2 separate regions of the Homo sapiens genome follow, and region 1 is linked to region 2. The links come from fine-mapping of genetic effects on gene expression. A gene starts in region 2. The other region holds a variant in brackets. All regions are shown on one strand. Distances are from middle to middle.

Evidence for each region. PIP is the estimated chance that this variant, and not a neighbour inherited with it, causes the effect.
Region 1: its variant is fine-mapped to the expression of EMILIN3 in testis (GTEx, PIP 0.99). The same link has a PIP of 0.9 or more in thyroid.

The regions. Positions count from the first base shown.
Region 1 is chr20:41,394,176-41,397,070 of GRCh38, reverse strand. No RefSeq gene overlaps it. Among named protein-coding and RNA genes, the nearest start is that of EMILIN3, 29 kb to the right of the region's middle. The variant G/A (reference allele first, on the strand shown) is at 1,621.
Region 2 is chr20:41,365,169-41,368,063 of GRCh38, reverse strand. It overlaps EMILIN3 (elastin microfibril interfacer 3), which reads left to right and starts at 1,246. Exons shown (of 4, transcript NM_052846.2): 1 at 1,246-1,596. The coding sequence starts at 1,430. RefSeq lists an enhancer at 2,008-2,509.

The sequences.
Region 1 (2,895 bases), 29 kb before region 2:
AGGTGTGGTGGCAGGAGCCTGTCATCCCAGCTACTGGGAAGGCTGAAGCAGGAGAATTGCTTGAACCCAGGAGGCAGAGGTTGCAGTGAGCCGAGATGGAACCATTGCACTCCAGCCTGGGCAACAGAGTGAGACTCCATCTCAAAAAATACACACACACACATACATATATATATATATATATATATATTTCATATTAACTCCAACATGGTTTTGTATAAAAATGAATCACATAGTGGAATATAAGATTCATGTCTACTTTTGAGATAAAATGCTTCCAAGAAGCCCTTGGCTTTGGGCATGCTTCTTGAGGGCCAGCCTCCAAACCCGAGGGCATACTTTCACTTTGGAGGAAACACTGGAGTTGCCCTGTCCCCCTCCCCTCTTCACACTGAGTCTTTTTTGTTTGTCTGTTTTTGTTTTTGTTTTTTTGAGACAAAATCTCCCTCTGTCACCCAGGCTGGAGTGCAGTGGTGTGATCACAGCTCACTGTAGCCTCGAACTCCTGGGCTCAAGCGATCCTCCTGCCTCGAGAGTGACTGTCCTGTTCCCCACTGAGATGTCCAGCTGGCTCTCAGAAGCAGGACACTAGGAGAGGCTCAAGAGTCCAGGTCGATGCAGTGCTGTGGCCAGACTGAAGCAGCTTTGCCACGTCACCCTGGTCTCATCTACCATCAGGCCCCTGCTGGCTGTGTGTGCCTGTTCCCCCTCAGGATGACAACCTGGCCTCACCTTTCTCTGTCCCCAGCGCCTTGGGGCTCTTTGAAAATCCTCAGGGACTCCCAAAGCCTGCATAGGGCAGGAGAGCTGGGCCGAGGAAGGTCCACGCTGCACAGGGCAGGCAAGGACTCAGCACTGCTGGGTGTTTAGACTCTTTCCTGGCTCAGACCAAGAAAACTCTAAACTCTGTAGACACAGCTCCCAACCCCCACCCACTCCCCACTCCAGCTCTGACCCAGGCTTTTCCATTCACAGATCCCAGACTTTCCAGACCGGCAAAGAGCCCGGAGGCACAAGGCACCGTGAGTGCCTTGGGCAGGGGTTGGGGGCGGGGCGGTGGATTGTATGAGGCTGAGGAAAGCCCCAGCCGCAGCCCCTTGGGCCTCCCCAGGTAGAAGACACCCCTACCCTCACCCCAGTCCCTTGTCAAATTTCCCCGTCAAGAAGCAGCACATACGTATATAAGGATACTCCTAGTGTTGGTGTGCATCTGAGAGAGAGGGAAGGAGGGAGGGAGGGAGAGCTGGAGGGCGGTGGGGCAGGGGAGCAGGTGTTCCTCCTGGCTAAGCCCCTGCAGCTACTTCCTTTCTTCTCCCAGACAAGTTGAGGATAATTAGCATCCCATGAGGGAAGAAAGAGGCAGCTCCCATCCCTAGACTGAGCGTGGGAGAATTCAGAGCCCCCACCAACTCCACTCCCAGTGCGCAACCCAGCATCCCCAAAACAGGCCCAAGGACAAGGAGTCCACCACCCCCACCCTGTGGGCCCAACCACTCCCAGCCTCTGTAAGGAACAAGAGTTCAAAGAAATAAAACCTCCATCCAAAGAGGTACTTGCTCTGCACAGTCAACCGGGGGGGCACAATGTTCTTGAAACCCTGACCTTTCTTTGGAGTTACTG[G/A]TTGTTTCTTGTGTTCTCTGGCTCCTTTTCAAGCTGGGCTGGTCCATGAGTGTCTCTCAGGGACAAGGTACGACAATCGGAAGCAGACAAAAAAAGATTCTCTGCTTGGCTTTTGAGTTTCGGTGCCTGGCCTGGGCACATGCCAGATAAGAGCAAAGCTTCCCAGCTACCATCCCTCCCGCCTGGAAAAAGGTTTCTGAAGGGAAGAGGAAAGGGGTGGTTGGCAGCGGTCAGTGGGGATGGACTGAAGGAACCAGCCTCTTTGAGGGTGTCTCGTCTGTTTCCAGCACCCAGGAGCCCCCTGGAGCCATGTCTGAACCCAGGCTTCTGGGATCCTCTTCCTCAGTTGCCCCACCAGCCTGCCCCTCCCACACGGCTGTGGCATCTCCAGCAGCAGCCCCTGTGTCTCCTGTGACAGACCAGTGAGGGGGGTGCCACCTGTGCCCTGAGCATCCACTTGAGATAGGGTCTTACCCATTGGACTGCCCTCCCATCTTCACCCTAGGGCACCCTTAAGACCCAGTGGAGGCCAGGTACGGTGGCACACACCTGTGATTCCAACACTTTGGGAGGCCGAGTTGGGTGGATCGCTTGAGATTAGGAGTTCGGGACCAGCCTGGCCAACATGGTGAAACCCCGTCTCCACTAAAAATACAAAAATTAGCCAGGCATGGTGGTGCGTGCCTGTAATCCCAGCTACTCAGGAGGCTGAGGCAGGAGAATCACTTGAACGCGGGAGGCGGAGGTTCCAGTGAGCCAAGATTGCACCACTGCACTCCAGCCTGGGCAATAGAGTGAGACTCAGTCTCAAAGAAAAAAAAAAGACTGGGTTGAGCCCCAGTAGGGGAGATAGCAGTACAGAAAGCCCCTCTCTTGTGCCTCAGTGGGACTAGGAGAAACAGCTTGAGGTCCCCTGCACCCCAAGTAAGGCAAGTGCTGGGTAAACCAACCCTGTGCTCAAACACTGACTTTGTGATATGGACTCAGGAGGCCTTGAGCAAAAGGGCCAGCCAGGCTCAGAGCCTGCTACTCTGAAGTCTGGCAGTGGCACCCACCTCCCTGCAGAAGAGGCAGACCCAGGGTTATCCATGGCAGGGTCACCAGGGCCTGGGGCTGCAGGATGCTAGGAAGTGGCTCAGCTCCTGCCTGGTCTGGGGCATCACTCTGGGCCTCTCCCTCCAGTGTGCCCATGGGGAGTTGAGCTGCCTGAGCCCTGGGACCCCTCCGAGCTCTGCCACCCTGGACATGAGACCTTGAGATGCTGTGTCCCCATCT
Region 2 (2,895 bases):
CTACACCTGGAAGCTGGATTCCTTCAGCTTCTGTGTTCTGATTCCAAAGCCTGGGGGAAAGCAGGATGGGCCTAGCTGGGGTCAGATGTCCGCCCCACAGAACCCAAAAGCCACTAAAGCTAAGGGCAGGAAATAGATGTGGGTTTCGGAGCTGCCCCTTCCAGTATCCTTGATAACCATCACCCTATCCAAAAGGCATTAATTCATATCTCAAGGTCAATTTGGAGGGAGGTCTCTCCAAGCAAGCCCCAGAGTTCTGTACACCTATCAGCTCCTGGGGCAAAGACACAGACGGCTGTAGCCACCGGTGTGGATGAGACAAGGCCAGGAAAGTACCGCTCTGATGACAGAATCAGAAGGACTCTGTGCAGGTTAGAGAGTTAGCAAGGTGATACTGAATGAGGACGACGATAAAACCCAACTCTTGGGTTCCAAGAGTCAACTTCACAAGCAAAATGTGGACGACGCCTGGCTTCACCGCGGCAGTGCCTTGTGAGAAAGACCTGAGGATTTTCTCTGACCAGCCGGCTTAGAGCTTCAGTTGCACGAAAAGCACAGCACTTTTGGCTGGGCTGGGGCGGTGATAGGCCTTTCGGGCTCGGTGCAACCCATACCTAAGACAGAGAGGCAACACAGGCGCCTCCAGAGAACCAGAGGTGCAACCGGGCCACCAGGCTACGTGGCAGAGGTTGCGGGGTAAGGGGGAGGTGGGATGCCTGGGGAGAGGTCAGCGGAGTTATCAAACTAAGGTTCCCGGGCAATGATGGGGCCAGGAGGCAGAGCGAGCAAACGGGGATGATCTGGGGTCTATTCCAAAGAGGTGGCGGGGGAGGTGGTGCTGCTGTGCCCCCAGTCACGGCCATCTCGGCTCCAGAGCCCTGGAGAGCAGTTCCCGGGTTCACACGGACTCTGAAGACAAGCGTATCCTGAGGGTGGACGACTCCTGGAAAGTCCACGCCCAGGCTGGCCTCAGGGGTCCGCTTCTCTGCGTCTCGCCCCGTGCCCGCAGGCGACAGAGTGGCTGGTGTGCTCGGGGGGCCTCCCAGGGCGCGGCGGCCTGCGCCCCTGCCACCTGGGGCTGCTCCCTTTGGAACCTCCTGTTCGCAGGCGGCTCCTCGGCCGTCCGCTCGGAGCTGGGGCGAGGGGCTGGCGGCGGCGAGCGGCGCGGCCCCAAGTTTATGCTAATCCGCAAAGAGCCCGCCTCCCGCCTCCCCTCCGCGGCCCCAGCCGCTAGCAGCGCCGGCCACTCCGCGGGACGCAGCCGCCGCGAAGCGCCAGGCGGCCGGGCCAGCGAGCTCGGGGGCCGAAGGGGACCCCGGGACCCTCGGGGCGGGACCCGGGCCGACCAGCGGCGGGGGCGGCGCGGCGCTGCAGGCGGACACCCGGCGGGGGGCACCGCGCGGGGCCGGGCAGAGGCGCGGGGGCCGCTATGGGCCGCCGCCGCCTGCTCGTCTGGCTGTGCGCCGTCGCGGCGCTGCTCTCGGGGGCGCAGGCCAGGGGCACCCCGCTCCTGGCGCGGCCTGCGCCGCCCGGTGCCTCCCGCTACAGTCTCTACACGACGGGATGGCGCCCGCGGCTGCGCCCGGGGCCGCACAAGTAAGCGCGGGCGGGCGGCGGGCGGGAAGAGGGAGGGATGGGCCCGCGCGCGTCGCCGCTCCCACCTGCCCGCACCCGCGGGGGGCGTCGAGGCCCCGGGCACCCCGAGGCCGCTGCACAGAGGGGGCGGCGCCCGGGGCCGAGCCCCTGCCCAGGCGAGCGCCCTACGCTCCGGGAGGTTGCGGGGCTGGCGAGGAAAAAGGAACCGAGGGGGCCTGGCGCGGCGGCTTGGGATCCTGGCAGTGCCAGCGGAAACCTTTCCAGCGAAGTAACATTTTCCAGCTGCGCTGTGTGCAGACTCCGGGCGAGCGGACCAGGTGGAGGGAGAGGAGGAAAGGCGGTCCGCGCGCTGAGCACGCGGGGCTCCCCCGCCCCGGGCCTCCCTTCTCTCCCCTGGCCCGGCCAGGTAGGAGATAGAGCTGCGCATCCGGGCGGCCGCTGCCCTCTCGCAGTCAGCCTGGCCCCAGCAACCCCATGGGAGCCCCAGCGTGGCCGGGCTGCAGAGCCAGAGCGGGCTCCTGGCTCCGGGCCTGTGCTGTGGCACAGCCGTCCACAGCGGTCGGCTTATGCCAGGCAGCCACCTCCTCAGCCCTTGTGGCTCATCAAGGAGCCTGCTTTCCCCGCCTCAGCTTCTGGTGTTTCGTGGGCAGTGGCTTGCGAACTGGCCTCAGTTAAGTGGGCTGGAGGCTCTGCCTGGGGTGCTGGCTGAACTTGAATTCTAGCTGAATTTGAGAGCTGTTGTAGGAGGAAGAGTACCGACACTCAGTGGGCCTGGGTACATCACAGCGAGCCTCCTGGAGGAGGTGGTACAAGAACTGCTCTGAGAGTAAGGGAACAGGACCAAAGGCAGGGGCTGCAAAACTACGAGGAGAGGTGGATTTCCCCGGGAGCCAGGCAGGGAGGAAGGACAAGACATGGTGCTCTCAAAGGAGTCACTGAGTGGGGACTCGGAAGCCTTAAATGCCAAGATAAGGAGTTTGGAATCAGCGAAGGATGGGGGGGTGTGGCAGGGCACTTGAGGGAGAATCCGGGCTGGCCTCTTCCCCACGCAGGGAGGGGCAGCCACATCAGGCTCCTGGTTCCAAATAGTGCTTAGCCCAGGGGCCACCCATCACGGAGGCTGGAATCAGAGACCAGCAGCGGGGCTGGACCCCAGACCAAGGGCGTTGGCTCCCAGGGACACAGAGAACAGACAGAAGAGACATGGGAGTTTGGAGTCCTGCTGAGGCCCACAGATGGAGGTGGGAGGGTAGGCGCCTCTGTGGGCCTCGCTCAGCCAGATATTCCAGGGGTGCCATT